Linked DNA regions of Homo sapiens: all the other regions are linked to region 3. Evidence: fine-mapped expression QTL. A gene starts in region 3. Each other region holds a variant in brackets. All regions are shown on one strand. Distances are from middle to middle. Region 1 overlaps NPLOC4 (NPL4 homolog, ubiquitin recognition factor). Region 2 overlaps NPLOC4 (NPL4 homolog, ubiquitin recognition factor). Region 3 holds the start of PDE6G (phosphodiesterase 6G).

Region 1 (2,753 bases), 32 kb after region 3:
GACTTCAGGTGATCTGCCCAACTCGGCCTCCCAAAGTGTTGGGATTACAGGCTTGAACCTCCGCGCCCAACCCTCATTTTTTTCTAGTGAGGAGCATTTGATCCTGTACCATGGGTTCCTAAGGCTGTTTTTTTTTTCCCCAAATCTCTGCCTTCAGATTATATAGCTGTTATTTTTATTGATTCATTTATGTTTTTCTTTTTAGAGTTGGTTGGATTCTCACTCTGTCGCTCAGGCTGGAGTGCAGTGGTGTGATCATATCTCATTGTAGCCTTAAACTTCTGGGCTCAAGCAGTGCTTCCACCTCAGCCTTCCGAGTTGCTGGGACCACAAGCTATTCACCTATGTTTAGGTTGACTCTTCTGCTCTCTCCCTTCTGCTGATAAGCCCGTTCAGTGAATTTTTTATTTCTGTTCTTGTGTTTTTCAGTTCTAGAATTTCCATTTGATTGTTCTTTTATGATTTGTTTCTTTACCGAGATTCACATTCCTTTTATTTGGGTACATCTACTCTGATGACCCCTCGGTGTAGAGCTCTTGCTCTGGCCCCTTGCCTGGGCTCAGACACAGATGCGCCCACCTGCCTGCTGGACGGCTTCACTGCAGTGTGTCTGGTTGTCACCTCCGATCTCAGTGTCAAATGGAAGTCCTGATTTTCCCTCTAGTCTTCTTCCTTTTTTAGCCTTTCCTTTCATGGTCCCTGCACAGGTGTTACCTCCACATAGTTTCTCAATCTAGAATTCTCAGCTTTACTCTGACCTCCTTCCTTTCTCTCATTCCATTCCTGCCCCTGGTCCTGCTCGTCAGCTGGGCCTGGTGATGACCACTGCTGGAAAGTGTGCTCTTGCCTTCATCCCCACCATCCTGTCCCATCTCATCCCCTGTCTCAGCCCATCTCTCTTGTCTCTAATTGGCACTCTAGCTTCCTCTTCAGTGTGGTGTTGAGCAACAGGGATTTTGTGGATGATGATTCCCCCTGCCTTTCGTCTGTGTGGCTTCCCACGGCCCTGTCTGCCTCGCCAGCCTCATCTCTTTCCATCTTCCTTATTGTTTATTGGCCTCTGGCCTCCGTGTTTCCAACACCCTTCCTGCCTCCTGGTCTTTGTGCTTGCTCCTACTCCCTGTGGCCTTTTCTCCCAGCTCGCGTGTGGCGGGCTTACCCACCGCTGGGTGGGCCCTGCTCAGCTGAAGCTCTTCAGAGAG[A/G]CTTCTAGCCTCCCATCTGAGGTTTCTTTTCCTTTTCTGTCGTAGTGCTTATTTCGACCTTTGTTGACTTTGTCTCCCCCATTTGTTGGTAAACTGCTTGACAGCAGGAACCTTGTCTTTTTTTTGTTTTTCTTTTTTTGAGGTGGAGTCTTGTTCCGTTGCCCAGGCTAGAGTGTAATGGCGTGATCTCATCTCACTGCAGCTCCGCCTCCCAGGTCGAAGTGATTCTCCTGTCTCAGCCCACCGACTAGCTGGGACTGTAGGCGTGCACCACCATGCCTGGCTAATTTTTGTCTTTGTTTTTGTTTTTGTTTTTTTGAGACGGAGTTTCACTCTTGTCGCCCAGGCTGGAGTGCAATGGCGCCATCTTGGCTCACTGCAACCTCTGCCTTCTGGTTTCAAGCAATTCTCTTGCCGCAGCCTCCTGAGTAGCTGGGATAACAAGTGTCCGCCACCACGCCTAGCTAATTTTTGTATTTTAGTAGAAATGGGGTTTCATCAAGGTGGCCAGGCTGGCCTCGATCTCCTGACCTCGTGATCCGCCCACCTCGGCCTCCCAGAGTGCTGGGATTACAGGCGTGAGTCACCACACCTGGCCTAATTTTTGTATTTTTAGGAGAGATGGGGTTTCACCATGTTGGTCAGGCTGGTCTTGAACTCCTGACTTGAAGTGATCCACCCGCCTTGGCCTCCCGAAGTGCTGGGATTGCAGACATGAGCCACCACGCCCGGCCAGAAACCTTGTCTTTTCTAGTTCATTTTTGTGATCTGAACACCCAGAATGGAGCTGAGCACATAGAACTGCTTAATATTTGTTGAAGGAATGAGTGAATATTCCCAGCATCTAGCAAAGTGCCCTGCACAGTGGACGTTTTATGATTTAGTCGCACCATTCTGTGTTAGGTTTCAGAATTGGAATTGAGTTTTGTTTTTTTTTTTGAGACGGAGTCTCGCTCTGTCGTCCTGGCTGGAGTGCAGTGGCGCGATCTCGGCTCACTGCAAGCTCCGCCTCCCGGGTTCACGCCACTCTCCTGCCTCAGCCTCCCGAGTAGCTGGGACTGCAGGCGCCCACCACCACGCCCGGCTAATTTTTTGTATTTTTAGTAGAGACGGGGTTTCACCGTGTTAGCCAGGATGGTCTCGATCTCCTGACCTCATGATCCGCCTGCCTCGGCCTCCCAAAATGCTGGGATTACAGGCGTCAGCCACCGCGCCCGGCCGGGTTTTTTATTTTTTTGAGACAGAGTTTTGCTTTTTTTTTTTTTTTTTTTTGAAACAAAGTCTTGCTCTGTCACCCAGGCTGGAGTGCAGTGGCATGATCTCGACTCACTGCAGCCTCTACCTCCCAGGCCCAAGCAGTTCTGCCTCAGCCTCCCGGGTAGCTGGGATTACAGGTGTGCGCCACCATGCCTGGCTAATTTTTGTATTTTTAGTAGAGACGGTTTCACTATGTTGACCAGGCTGGTGTCGAACTCCTGGCCTCGTGATCCACCTGCTTTGGCCTCCCATAGTGCTGAGATTACAGGTGTGAGCCTCCACACCCGGCCAGAG
Region 2 (2,753 bases), 38 kb after region 3:
TTTCTCCTGCCTCAGCCTCCTGAGTAGCTGGGACTATAGGCTCGTGCCACCATGCCTGGCTAATTTTTTTATTTTATGTAGAGGTGGGGTTTCACTAAGTTGGCCAAGCTGGTCTCGAATTCCTGACCTCGTGATCCACCCGCCTTGGCCTTCCAAAGTGCTGGGATTACAGGTGTGAGCCACCGTGCCTGGCTCTTTATTCTTTCGTTACTTGAGTGTCTATCCCTAGACACTGCCAGTTAGTCTTGCTTTTTAAGGAAATTTGTATGTCTTACTTCTTGTAATCTTCAGGTTCCCCTTCCATCTCTTCCCTTTTCTTGAAATTTATCTGTTGAGGAACTTGGTCCATTGACCTGTAGAGTTTCCCACCTCTGAGGTCTTGCTGATTTCACATTCACAAGACCCTCCAGCATGACCCTCTGTGTCCTGGATTTCCTGCCGATGCAAAGCGGTAAACAGAGGCCTGACAGACTCAGGCCATTCCCTCAGCAGGACCATGGGGTGCTGTACCCCCACCTTTTTTTTTTTTTTGAGACGGAGTCTCAATCTGTTGCCCAGGCTGGAGTGCAGTGGCGCAATCTCAGCTCACTGCAACCTCTGCCTCCCAGGTTCAAGCGATTCTCCTGCCTCAGCCTCCTGAGTAGCTGGGATTACAGGTGCCCACCACCATTCCCAGGTAATTTTTGTATTTTTAGTAGAGACAGGGTTTCACCGTGTTGGCCAGGCTGATCTCAATCTCTTGACCTCAAGTGATTCACCCGCCTCAGCCTCCCAAAGTGTTGGCATTACAGATGTAAGCCACTGCGCCTGGCACCCCGCCTTTTTTCTTTTCTTTTCTTTCTTTTTTTTTTTTTTTCTTGAGACAGAGTTTCATTCTTGTTGCCCAGGCTAGAGTGCAGTGGCATGGTCTCAGCTCACCACAACCTCTGCCCCCCCGGGTTCAAGCGATTCTCCTGCCTTAGCCTCCCGAGTAGCTGGGATTACAGGCATGTGCCACCACGCCCGGCTAATTTTGTTTTTGTTTTTGTTTTTTGAGACGGAGTCTCACTGTGTTGCCCAGGCTAGAGTCCAGTGGCGCGATTTCAGCTCACTGCAAGCTCCACCTCCCGGGTTCATGCCATTCTCCTGCCTCAGCCTCCCGAATAGCTGGGACTACAGGCGCCCGCCAACATGCCCGGCTAATTTTTTGTGTTTTTTTTTTTTTTTTTAATTGATCATTCTTGGGTGTTTCTCGCAGAGGGGGATTTGGCAGGGTCATAGGACAATAGTGGAGGGAAGGTCAGCAGCCAAACAAGTGAACAAAGGTCTCTGGTTTTCCTAGGCAGAGGACCCTGCGGCCTTCCGCAGTGTTTGTGTCCCTGGGTACTTGAGATTAGGGAGTGGTGATGACTCTTAACCAGCATGCTGCCTTCAAGCATCTGTTTAACAAAGCACATCTTGCA[C/T]CGCCCTTAATCCATTTAACCCTGAGTGGACACAGCACATGTTTCAGAGAGCACAGGGTTGGGGTAAGGTCATAGATCAACAGGATCCCAAGGCAGAAGAATTTTTCTTAGTACAGAACAAAATGAAAAGTCTCCCATGTCTACTTCCTTCTACACAGACACAGCAACCATCCGATTTCTCAATCTTTTCCCCACCTTTCCCCCTTTTCTATTCCACAAAACTGCCATTGTCATCATGGCCCGTTCTCAATGAGCTGTTGGGTACACCTCCCAGACGGGGTGGTGGCCGGGCAGAGGGGCTCCTCACTTCCCAGTAGGGGCGGCCGGGCAGAGGCGCCCCTCACCTCCCAGACGGGCGGCTGGCTGGGCGGGGGCTGACCCCCCACCTCCCTCCCGGACGGGGCGGCTGGCCGGGCGGGGGCACTGACCCCTCACCTCCCTCCCGGACGGGGCGGCTGGCCGGGCGGGGTCGCTGACCCCCCACCTTCCTCCCGGACGGGGTGGCTGCCAGGCGGAGACGCTCCTCACTTCCCAGACGGGGCGGCTGCGGGGCGGAGGGGCTCCTCACTTCTCAGACGGGGCGGCCAGGCAGAGACGCTCCTCACCTCCCAGACGGGGTCGCGGCCAGGCAGAGGCGCTCCTCACATCCCAGACGGGGCGGCGGGGCAGAGGCGCTCCCCACATCTCAGACGATGGGCGGCCGGGCAGAGACGCTCCTCACTTCCTAGATGGGATGGCGGCCGGAAAGAGGCGCTCCTCACTTCCTAGATGGGATGGCGGCCGGGCAGAGACGCTCCTCACTTTCCAGACTGGGCAGCCAGGCAGAGGGGCTCGTCACATCCCAGACGATGGGCGGCCAGGCAGAGAGGCTCCTCACTTCCCAGACGGGGTGGCGGCCGGGCAGAGGCTGCAGTCTCGGCACTTTGGGAGGCCAAGGCAGGCGGCTGGGAGGTAGAGGTTGTAGCGAGCCGAGATCACGCCACTGCACTCCAGCCTGGGCACCATTGAGCACTGAGTGAACGAGACTCCGTCTGCAATCCCGGCACCTCGGGAGGCCGAGGCTGGCGGATCACTTGGTTAGGAGCTGGAGACCAGCCCGGCCAACACAGCGAAACCCCATCTCCACCAAAAAAATACGAAAACCAGTCAGGCGTGGCGGCGCGCGCCTGCAATCGCAGGCACTCGGCAGGCTGAGGCAGGAGAATCAGGCAGGGAGGTTGCAGTGAGCCGAGATGGCAGCAGTACAGTCCAGCTTCGGCTCGGCATGAGAGGGAGACCGTGGAAAGAGACGGAGGGGGAGGGGGGGCATTT
Region 3 (2,753 bases):
CTAGCTAATTTTTTCTATTTTTTGTAGAGATGGGGGGGTCTCACTATGTTGTCCAGGCTGGTCTTGAACTCCTGGCCTCAAGTGATCCTCCTGCCTCAGCCTCCCAAAGCGCTGTTTGAGAGCCACTGCTCCCGGCCGAGTTATGGGTTTTTATTTATTTATTTATTTATTTATTTATTCATTTGAAACAGAATCTCGCTCTGTCGCCCAGGCTCTAGTGCGGTGGCGCGATCTCGGCTCACTGCAAGCTCCGCCTCCCGGGTTCACGCCATTCTCCTGCCTCAGCCTCCCAAGTAGCTGGGATTACAGGTACATGCCACCACGCCCGGCTAATTTTTTTGTATTTTTAGTAGAGTCGGGGTTTCACCATGTTAGCAAGGATGGTCTCGATCTCCTGACCTTGTGATCCACCTGCCTCAGCCTCCCAAAGTGCTGGGATTACAGGCATGAGCCACCACACCAGGCCTGAGTTATGGGTTTTTAAAGGTGCAGAGGCAGAGGTCACAGGCAAGTCATAAATCAGTACATGGAGGTTGTACACTGGTTTTGCCATAAATAGCAAGGAGATCTTGAAGCCAGGGACCACGGGTCATAGGTGGATTCAAAGGTTTTCTGATTTGGTGCAGAAGCGAATCTTTGTCTAAAACTTTGGGATCCGCAGGAAAGAATGTTAGCTCTGGGTTGTGGGCATGGCCTCCTCCAGGCCCCTCAGGATGGGCATAGCCTCCTCCAGGCCCCTCAGGAAGAAATTTAGGTAAGAGAAGGGTGGTCAGAGGCCAGTCCTCAGCTCCCGCTCATGTGAGGTCTGTGTGCCAGCACGCCCCTTTGGTGGGAGTCCCTGTTTCTGGAAAACAACTGAGGAGCACCTGCTAAGATGGCATGGTTTGCTTCTGTGGAGACTCTCGGGACTCTGGCTTCCATCTGTTGTTCTAAGCTCCTGTGACCTTCTTGTGACCTTCCTGTGGATCGGCTGCTCATTTCCTTCTCTGGGCTGGCTGGGGGCCTGGCTTGCCCTTGAAGGAACTCAACATTGTCCTTGCTTCTGTGCTTGGGAAGACCCACAGGCCCCTAAGGGCGGGGGGGGGTCCTTGTTTGGTTTCAGGAGCAGCAGGTGCAAAGGCCCTGGGGTGGGAGGGGTGAGATGTGAGGCCACAGCAGCGGGTGAGGGCCAGGCTGCAGAGGGTTTTGGGGACCATGAAGGTGGGCCCTTCAGAGATCAGGCAGGGTCAGGAAAGGCAGTAGGGAGGCCCAAGACAGCAGACACTGTGGTTGCTTCCATCTGGAAGATGGGCAGCTGCAGGAGCCTGGCTGTTCAGGGTCACACTTCTCTCCCTGTCCCGGCCCCATCTGCTGGGTGTCCTTCCTTGGAGCCCTTGACAGCACCTGAGCCCCTCCTCTCCATCCCCTGAACCTTGGTGGTTGTGCCCCCCCTCGGGGCCCAACAATCTCATTAGGGTGGCACTGAGACGCCTAATCAGCTCATGAAGCAGCGAGATAAAGGCCGGGGCTGGCACCCTGCGGAGGGAGGCCCAGCACTCACAGCACAGCCCCCTGAGACCCGCCCTGCACTTGGTGAGTAGTGGCCAACCCCGCTGTCTTTCCTGGCAGCCACTTCCCCCAGTGAGTCAGTGGGGGTCTGCTCATCACCCAAGGGGCAGAGGGAGCTGACAGGCTTTTACCACCGTGGCTGAGGTCTGGGTCTGCAGATGCCTACCCGCCACCCTGTTATTCAGAGGGGACTCCCAGCCAACCTCCTCCTCTGCTCCCCCATGGTAACCAGTGCTTCCACCATCCCCAGGCCAGTGATGGTCTGGGAACCTCAGGCCACGTGGGCTCAGCTGACCTGAGTGGACGCCAGTCACAGGCTGGGTCGGGCCAGGGCAGCGCAGGCAGCGGTTTCCACATGGATGGCATCTGATGGTTGGAGCTCCATCAGGGCCCAGAGCTGCCCAGGACAGCCCATGTCCCAGGGCTGGAGAAGCAGCTGGACGGGGCCTGTGCTATCTAGGATATGAGGATTGGGTGCCATGGGATCTGAGCAGCTGGGACCACCGGGCTCCTGAGTGCTGGTTTTGCACAGGCTGGTGCTGGTCCCAGTCCCGGGGACAGAGGCTGAACCTTAGTGAGGGAAGGTGCCATGGCAGGGTCCACCCCAATCCCAGGTGCCCAGCACCCCTTGCAGAGCCCGCGTCCCCAAAATGGGCCACCTGCCCTTGCTTTCTGATCACTCTCACGCCTGAAGCTCGGCAAACAGCTGGTAGTAGCCCAGGGCTGGAGTCAGGAATCCCAGCCAAAAAGACCAGGGGCAGGAAAGGGGACCCCAAGAGGTGGTCCCTGGGGCATCCAGTGCGGGCAAGCAGCCCCTCCTGTCTGTGTCATGTGCCTCCTTCCAGAACTTTCCGGCAGCATGTGCAGCTGACAGCAGCTCGATGGGAGATTAGGAATTCCCCTCTGCTGTTAATAGGCTTAGGGGAAGCTGAACTGCCCTTGGCCCAGGTCACTGGGGCTTAGGGCATCTGGGGAGAGGCTGTAGGGAGAGGAGGAGGAGAGGCCACCCTGTGCAGCAGTGCAGGGACACTGATCTCGTCCAGAGCGGCCGAGGCCCTTCAGCCACGCCACGCCACGCCAGGCGGGTGACCCTGCTCCCCGAGCTGACTCCAGACACAGAGAGGGCCTGGTGATTCCCCCAGCAGGGGGAACACATGCCCGGCACCCTCCGTCCCCAAGCCCCAGCTTGTCCCTCTATGAAGTGG

The links. PIP is the estimated chance that this variant, and not a neighbour inherited with it, causes the effect.
Region 1: its variant is the best candidate, but not a certain one, in a credible set for the expression of PDE6G in whole blood (INTERVAL, PIP 0.58).
Region 2: its variant is the best candidate, but not a certain one, in a credible set for the expression of PDE6G in whole blood (INTERVAL, PIP 0.63).

What each region holds. Positions count from the first base shown.
Region 1 is chr17:81,623,186-81,625,938 of GRCh38, reverse strand. All of the region lies in intron 2 of NPLOC4 (NPL4 homolog, ubiquitin recognition factor), which reads left to right. Among named protein-coding and RNA genes, the nearest start is that of NPLOC4, 13 kb to the left of the region's middle. The variant A/G (reference allele first, on the strand shown) is at 1,203.
Region 2 is chr17:81,617,657-81,620,409 of GRCh38, reverse strand. The region is part of intron 3 of NPLOC4 (NPL4 homolog, ubiquitin recognition factor); the gene reads left to right. Among named protein-coding and RNA genes, the nearest start is that of NPLOC4, 18 kb to the left of the region's middle. RefSeq lists enhancers at 496-1,039, 1,040-1,583. The variant C/T (reference allele first, on the strand shown) is at 1,443.
Region 3 is chr17:81,655,312-81,658,064 of GRCh38, reverse strand. It overlaps PDE6G (phosphodiesterase 6G), which reads left to right and starts at 1,523. Exons shown (of 4, transcript NM_002602.4): 1 at 1,523-1,572.